Regions from separate parts of the Homo sapiens genome. Here region 1 is linked to region 2. Evidence: fine-mapped expression QTL. Tissue or cell type: whole blood. Region 2 holds a variant in brackets; the other region holds the start of a gene. All regions are shown on one strand. Distances are between the middles of the regions. Region 1 holds the start of MCM9 (minichromosome maintenance 9 homologous recombination repair factor). Region 2 overlaps MCM9 (minichromosome maintenance 9 homologous recombination repair factor).

Region 1 (2,923 bases), 67 kb before region 2:
GTGGGAGGGACCCGGTGGGAGGTAACTGAATCATGGGGGTGGTTATTCCCATGCTGTTCTCTGATAGTGAGTGAGGTATCACAAGATCTGATGGTTTTCTAAGGGGCTTTTCCCTCCTTGCTCCTCACTTCTCCTTCCTGCAGCCCTGTGAAGAAGGAGGTTTGCTCCCGCTTCTGCCATGATTTTAAGTTTCCTGAAGTCTCCCCAGCCATGCTGAACTGTAAGTCAATTAAACGTCTTTCCTTTATAAATTACTCAGTCCCAGGTATGTCTTTATTAGCACTGTGAAAATGGACTATATAAGACTAGACCTGACAAAAGATCAAAACATTTGCTGAGTGAAATAACACCTAAATAAATGAAGAGGCTTACTTTAAGGGTCATTACTAAATATTGTTAACATGTAAATTATTCTTACATGGATCTATAGACGAAATGTAACCAATCACAATCCCAACTTTTTAAAGTGACAAGCTGATTTTAACATTCATATGAAAACCCAAGGGACTAGATGAGCCAGAACATTTTTGAAAAATAACAAAAAATTGGAGGCCAAACACGATCTGATTTTAAGACTCTTACGAATCTACAGGAATCAAGACAATGTGGTATTTTTGTAGAGAGAAATATAATAAATTGTCGGAACAGAATAGAAAGTCTAAGAATAGACCCACAACTGATGCTTTAGGGACAACTGATTTTAAACATAGGTGCAAAAGCTATTCAGTGAGAAAAAGAAAGCTCTCTAAACAAATGACACTATTCACATACAAAAAAATGACCTAAGATCCATACTTTGCACCACAGACAAAAATTAGCTCTAATTGGATCACAGACCTCAATATAAAACCTAAAATTCTAAAACTTGTGTCAGAAAACACAGAAGAGATCCTCTGTGGCCTTGGGTTAGGCAAATTCCTTGGACAGACAAAAAACAAACCCTAAGATCCGATCTGAGCCGCCGCACAACCCTGCTCTGGCCACTTAGCCTGAGGTCACTGCTCGGGTCCCGCCCCTCTCCCCGCCCGGGACCCTCCTGGCTCCGCCCCAATCCGCCCGCTCCGCTCCACCCCGCCCCGCTGCCTCGTCTCCATCCGGAAGAGCCGCCGGGGCAGGGAAGTTGAGGCGGTGCGCGGCCCGGCGTCGGTCGAGAGCGCAGGCCCGGCAGAGCCGCAGGCGCTAGGCCGCCCGACACAGCCCGCGCGTCCCCGCGGCCGGTGGCGCCTCGAGCGGCCACGTGCACGCGCGCACTCCGCCTCACCAGCCTTCTTGCGCCGGAGACGAACCCGCTGCCTGGCTGGAGCTCTCTGGGCCCTTCGGCCTCGGGAGCAACGCGTTCCCGGCGACTTCTGACACAGCCAGTAAGTGATAGCCGCCTCCTCCTTTCGCGGTTATGTTTTTCTCCAGTTCGTCCCAAGTCTCGTTCCCGTCTCATTACTTCAAAAACTATTCAACTCCGGGACCGGACAGGCACGGGAGCTGCCCGGGAGAAGAGCCCCAGAAGTCTCAGAGACTGCCAAGGTGTTGTGGGGCAGGGGCTGCGTGCAAAGACCCTGTGAATTAGAAAGTTTGGAAAGCATGCCTCCAAAACCGAGCGACTCCACGTTTGCCAGGCGCCCCTGGGGCAGCCGAGCGGCCCGGAGGCGCGAAATGGCGCGCCCCCGCAGTGAGAGGGGCGGAGGGAGTGGGGCGGGGCCGAGGGCGCGCGTCCCGCCAGCCCGCGCGGAGGGGGCGGGGCTCCCGGCAGGTGCAGGCGGGCGGGGCGGGGCTGCCGCGATTCCCGGAGACAGCTGGGGGATGCCAGTGCAGTTAGGCACTCTCCTGTCTTCTTTTCGACGCTTCGCTGTGGTCAAGAGGACAAAGTAAAGCAAATGATTTTATTTTGACCCCAAATATTCAATAAGAAAAGGAAAGAGAACTTGAAAGTTGTGAAATGACCCTTCTCAAAACAAAAAGTCCCTCCAGTGTCTATCTGGGTGGGTAGTAGGTACGTTTATTGATTTAGCAAACTGCTGATAACACAGTTGATTAGTCAGTTTTGCATAGATGTTGAAAGGGAATGAATAACGATGGTCCATATAACCATAGAAATGCTAGCCTAACTAGGCAAAATTTAATCTGACCTTAATTTGAACGTTGAATTCTGCTGCTGCCCTTTTCCTGCCTTGTGTGGAGCTGTTTTTCAAATTGCTAAATTTGTGGCTCTAAACTTAATATGCTTTAATAGAATCATAGTGATTCTCTTGTAGCCACTGTTGGGAGTCCAGATTTTTTTTTTTTTTTTTTTGGGCAAAGTCCACATTGTGGAGATATTCCTTCCCAAGTGCTTTTTCTGCTTTACACTTGGCTGAATTTATATTGCTTAACCAAAAACAAATTACCGTGGAGGCCGTAATTTATTTCCACTCATTGTTTTGGATATACATTTACTCATTCTTACTCTCACTCTGGCCTCCTATAGTGGTCAGGATTCTTGACCTAACTGCTATATGTACTTCTTAAACGTTTCACACCTTGCGGAATAGTAGGTTCTCAGAGAAAGCAAAATATAGCAAATAGCGTGTATAACACGTACTTAGGATGATAAACTGTGAACTTTATAGCAGTCTCCTTTAATATTCGTATTTGTAGAGTCCAGTACAATAAATGTTGGACAAATGAAGTAAGTCAAATTTAAGTACACCTCTTCTCCAGTCCTCAATCTCTTTCCAAACGAAATAAGTGTTTCTCTCTTTTTTTTTTTTTTTGAGGCGGAGTCTCGCTCTGTGCCCGGGCTGGAGTGCAGTGGCGTGGTCTCGGCTCACTGCAAGCTCCGCCTCCCGGGTTCACGCCATTCTCCTGCCTCAGCCTCCTGAGTAGCTGGGACTTCAGGCACCTGCCACCACGCCCAGCTAATTTTTTTTGTATTTTTTTTTAGTAGAGA
Region 2 (2,923 bases):
CTTTTTTTTTTTTTTTTTTTTGTAAATCCTTTGTTTCTTTTTCCTCTCTTGCCTTCTTTGTGGTTTGATGACTTTCTATATTGGTATGCTTTGGATCTTTTCTCTTTTGTGTATCTGTTATAGGCGTTTGTTCTGTGTTTACCCTGAGGCTTACAGAAAATATACTTACAATAGGCCATTTTAAGTTGATGACACCTTAATTTTTTTTATTATTATACTTTAAGTTCTAGGGTACATGTGCACAACGTGCAGGTTTGATTCATAGGTATACATGTACCATGTTGGTTTGCTGCACCCATCAACTCATCATTTACATTGGGTATTTCTCCTAATGCTATCCTTCCCCCAGTTCCCCACCCCCAGATAGGCCCAGGTGTGTGATGTTCCCCACCTTGTGTCCAAGTGTTCTCATTGTTCAGTTCCCACCTATGAGTGAGAACATGTGGTGTTTGGTTTTCTGTCCTTCTGATAGTTTGCTGAGAATGATGGTTTCCAGCTTCATGTCCCTGCAAAGGACGTGAACTCATCCTTTTTTATGGCTGCATAGTATTCCATGGTGTATATGTGCCACATTTTCTTAATCCAGTCTATCATTGATGGACATTTGGGTTGGTTCCAAGTCTTTGCTATTGTGAATAATGCTGCCATAAACATACGTGTGTGTATCTTTATAGTAGCATGATTTGTAATCCTTTGGGTATATACCCAGTAATGGGATTGCTGGGTCAAATGATAATCCTAGTTCTAGATCCTTGAGGAATCACCACACTGTCTTCCACAATGATTGAACTAATTTATACACCCACAAACAGTGTAAAAGCATTCCTATTTCTCCACATCCTCTCCAGCATCTGTTATTTCCTGACTTTTTAATGATTGCCATTCTAGCTGGCGTGAGATGGTATCTCATTGTGGTTTTCATTTGCATTTCTCTAATGACCAGTGATGATGAGCATTTTTTCATGTATCTGTTGGCTGCATAGATGTCTTCTTTTGAGAAGTGTCTGTTCATATCCTTTGCCCGCTTTTTGATGGGGTTTTTTTTTCTTTTAAATTTGTTTGAGTTCTTTGTAGATTCTGGATATTAGCCCTTTGTCAGATGGGTAGATTGCAAAAATTTTCTCCCATTCTGTAGGTTGCCTGTTCACTCTGAGGGTAGTTTCTTTTGCCACGCAGAAGCTCTTTAGTTTAATTAGATCCCATTTGTCTATTTTGGCTTTCGTTGCCATTGCTTTTGGTATTTAAGTCATGAAGTCCTTGCCCATGCCTATGGATGACACCTTAATTTTTATCACATACACAAAGTCTACACTTTTATTTTTCCTCCTCACACATTTTGTATTTTTGATGTCATACTTTGTCTTTTTATAATTTGCATTCCTTAAAAATTATTGTAGCTTTAGTTCTTTTAACAGTTTAACCTTTTTATTAGAAATATAATTAATTGGCTGAGTGCAGTGGCTCACACCTGTAATCCCAGCACTTTGGGAGGCCGAGGTGGGTGGATCACAAGGTCAGGAGTTCAAGACGAGCCTGGCCAACATGGTGAAACCCCGTCTCTACTAAAAATACAAAAATTAGCCAGACGTGGTGGCACGTGCCTGTAGTCCCAACTACTCTGGAGGCTGAGGAAGGAGAATTGCTTGAACCCAGGAGGTGGAGGTTGCAGTGAGCTGAGATCACACCATTGCATTCCAGCCTGGGCACCAGAGTGAGACTTCATCTCAAAAAAAAAGAAAAA[G/AAAG]AAAAAGAAAAAAGAAATATAATTAATTTACCCAACCCCATTGTATTACTAGAGTATTTTGGATTTGACAATATACAGTCATATATCACTTTACAATGGGGATACATTCTGAGAAATGCATTATTAGGTGATTTTGTCATTGTATGAACATCATTGAGTGTATTTACACAACCCTAGATGGTATAATCTACTATACACCTAGTCTACATGGTATACTCTTTTGCTCTTAGGCTACAAACCTGTACAGCATGTTACTGTATGGAATACTATAGGCAGTTTGTGACACAATGATAAGTAATTGTGTATCTAAACATATCTAAATATATAAAATATACAGTAAAATTGCCGTATAAAATTGCATAGGGTACTTATTGTGAATGAAGCTTCCAGGACTGGAAGTTGCGCTGGATTAGTCAGTGAGTGAGTAGTGAGTGAATATAAGGGCTTAGAACATTACTGTACACTTTTATATGACTAACGGAGCAGTACATTTGTTTACACCAGCATCACCACAAACACAAGTAATGCTTTGTGTTACAGCGTTATAATGGACATCACCATCACTAGGCAATATGAGTTTTTCAGCTCCATTATAATTTTATGGGACCACTGTTGATGTCATTATGTAGCACATGACTATACTCTCTTATGTCTTCATGTTACTAATAGTGTCTTCTTCCTTCAGCATGAAAAACTCCCTTTAGCGTTTTTTTTGTAAAAGAGGTCTAATGGTGGCAAATGCTTAAACTTTTTGTTTGAGAAAGTCTTTATCACCCCCTTTTTTTAAAAGACTGAATTGCTGAGTATAGAGTTATTGGTTGATGGGGTTTTTTTTTTTCCTTTTAGGATGTTGAATGTATCATCTCACTCTCTTCTGACCTGCAAGGTTGCTCTTGAGAAATCCACTGATAGTCTTATGAGAAGGTTCTTTTGTATGTGATGATTTGCTTTTACTTTACTGCTTTCAACACTCTGTGTTTTAACTTTTTATAATTTTATTGTGATTGTCTTGGCATAGGTTTCTTTGGATTCATCTTATTTGGTATTGTTTGGGCTTCCTGTCTCTGGCTTTCTATCTTCTTACCCAGGCTTGGGAAGTTTTCTGCCATTACTTCTTTGGATGTGTTTTCTATCCCTTTCTCTTCTCCTTCTGGCATGCCAATAATACGTAAGTTGTTTTAC

Evidence for each region.
Region 1: MCM9 starts here. The variant in region 2 is fine-mapped to the expression of MCM9 in whole blood (INTERVAL, PIP above 0.99).

What each region holds. Positions count from the first base shown.
Region 1 is chr6:118,933,329-118,936,251 of GRCh38, reverse strand. It overlaps MCM9 (minichromosome maintenance 9 homologous recombination repair factor), which reads left to right and starts at 1,093. Exons shown (of 14, transcript NM_017696.3): 1 at 1,093-1,361. It overlaps LOC124901389 (a long non-coding RNA gene), which reads right to left and starts at 1,337. Exons shown (of 2, transcript XR_007059729.1): 1 at 1,262-1,337. RefSeq lists silencers at 915-1,344, 1,595-1,844.
Region 2 is chr6:118,866,698-118,869,620 of GRCh38, reverse strand. The region is part of intron 8 of MCM9 (minichromosome maintenance 9 homologous recombination repair factor); the gene reads left to right. Among named protein-coding and RNA genes, the nearest start is that of ASF1A, 26 kb to the left of the region's middle. The variant G/AAAG (reference allele first, on the strand shown) is at 1,742.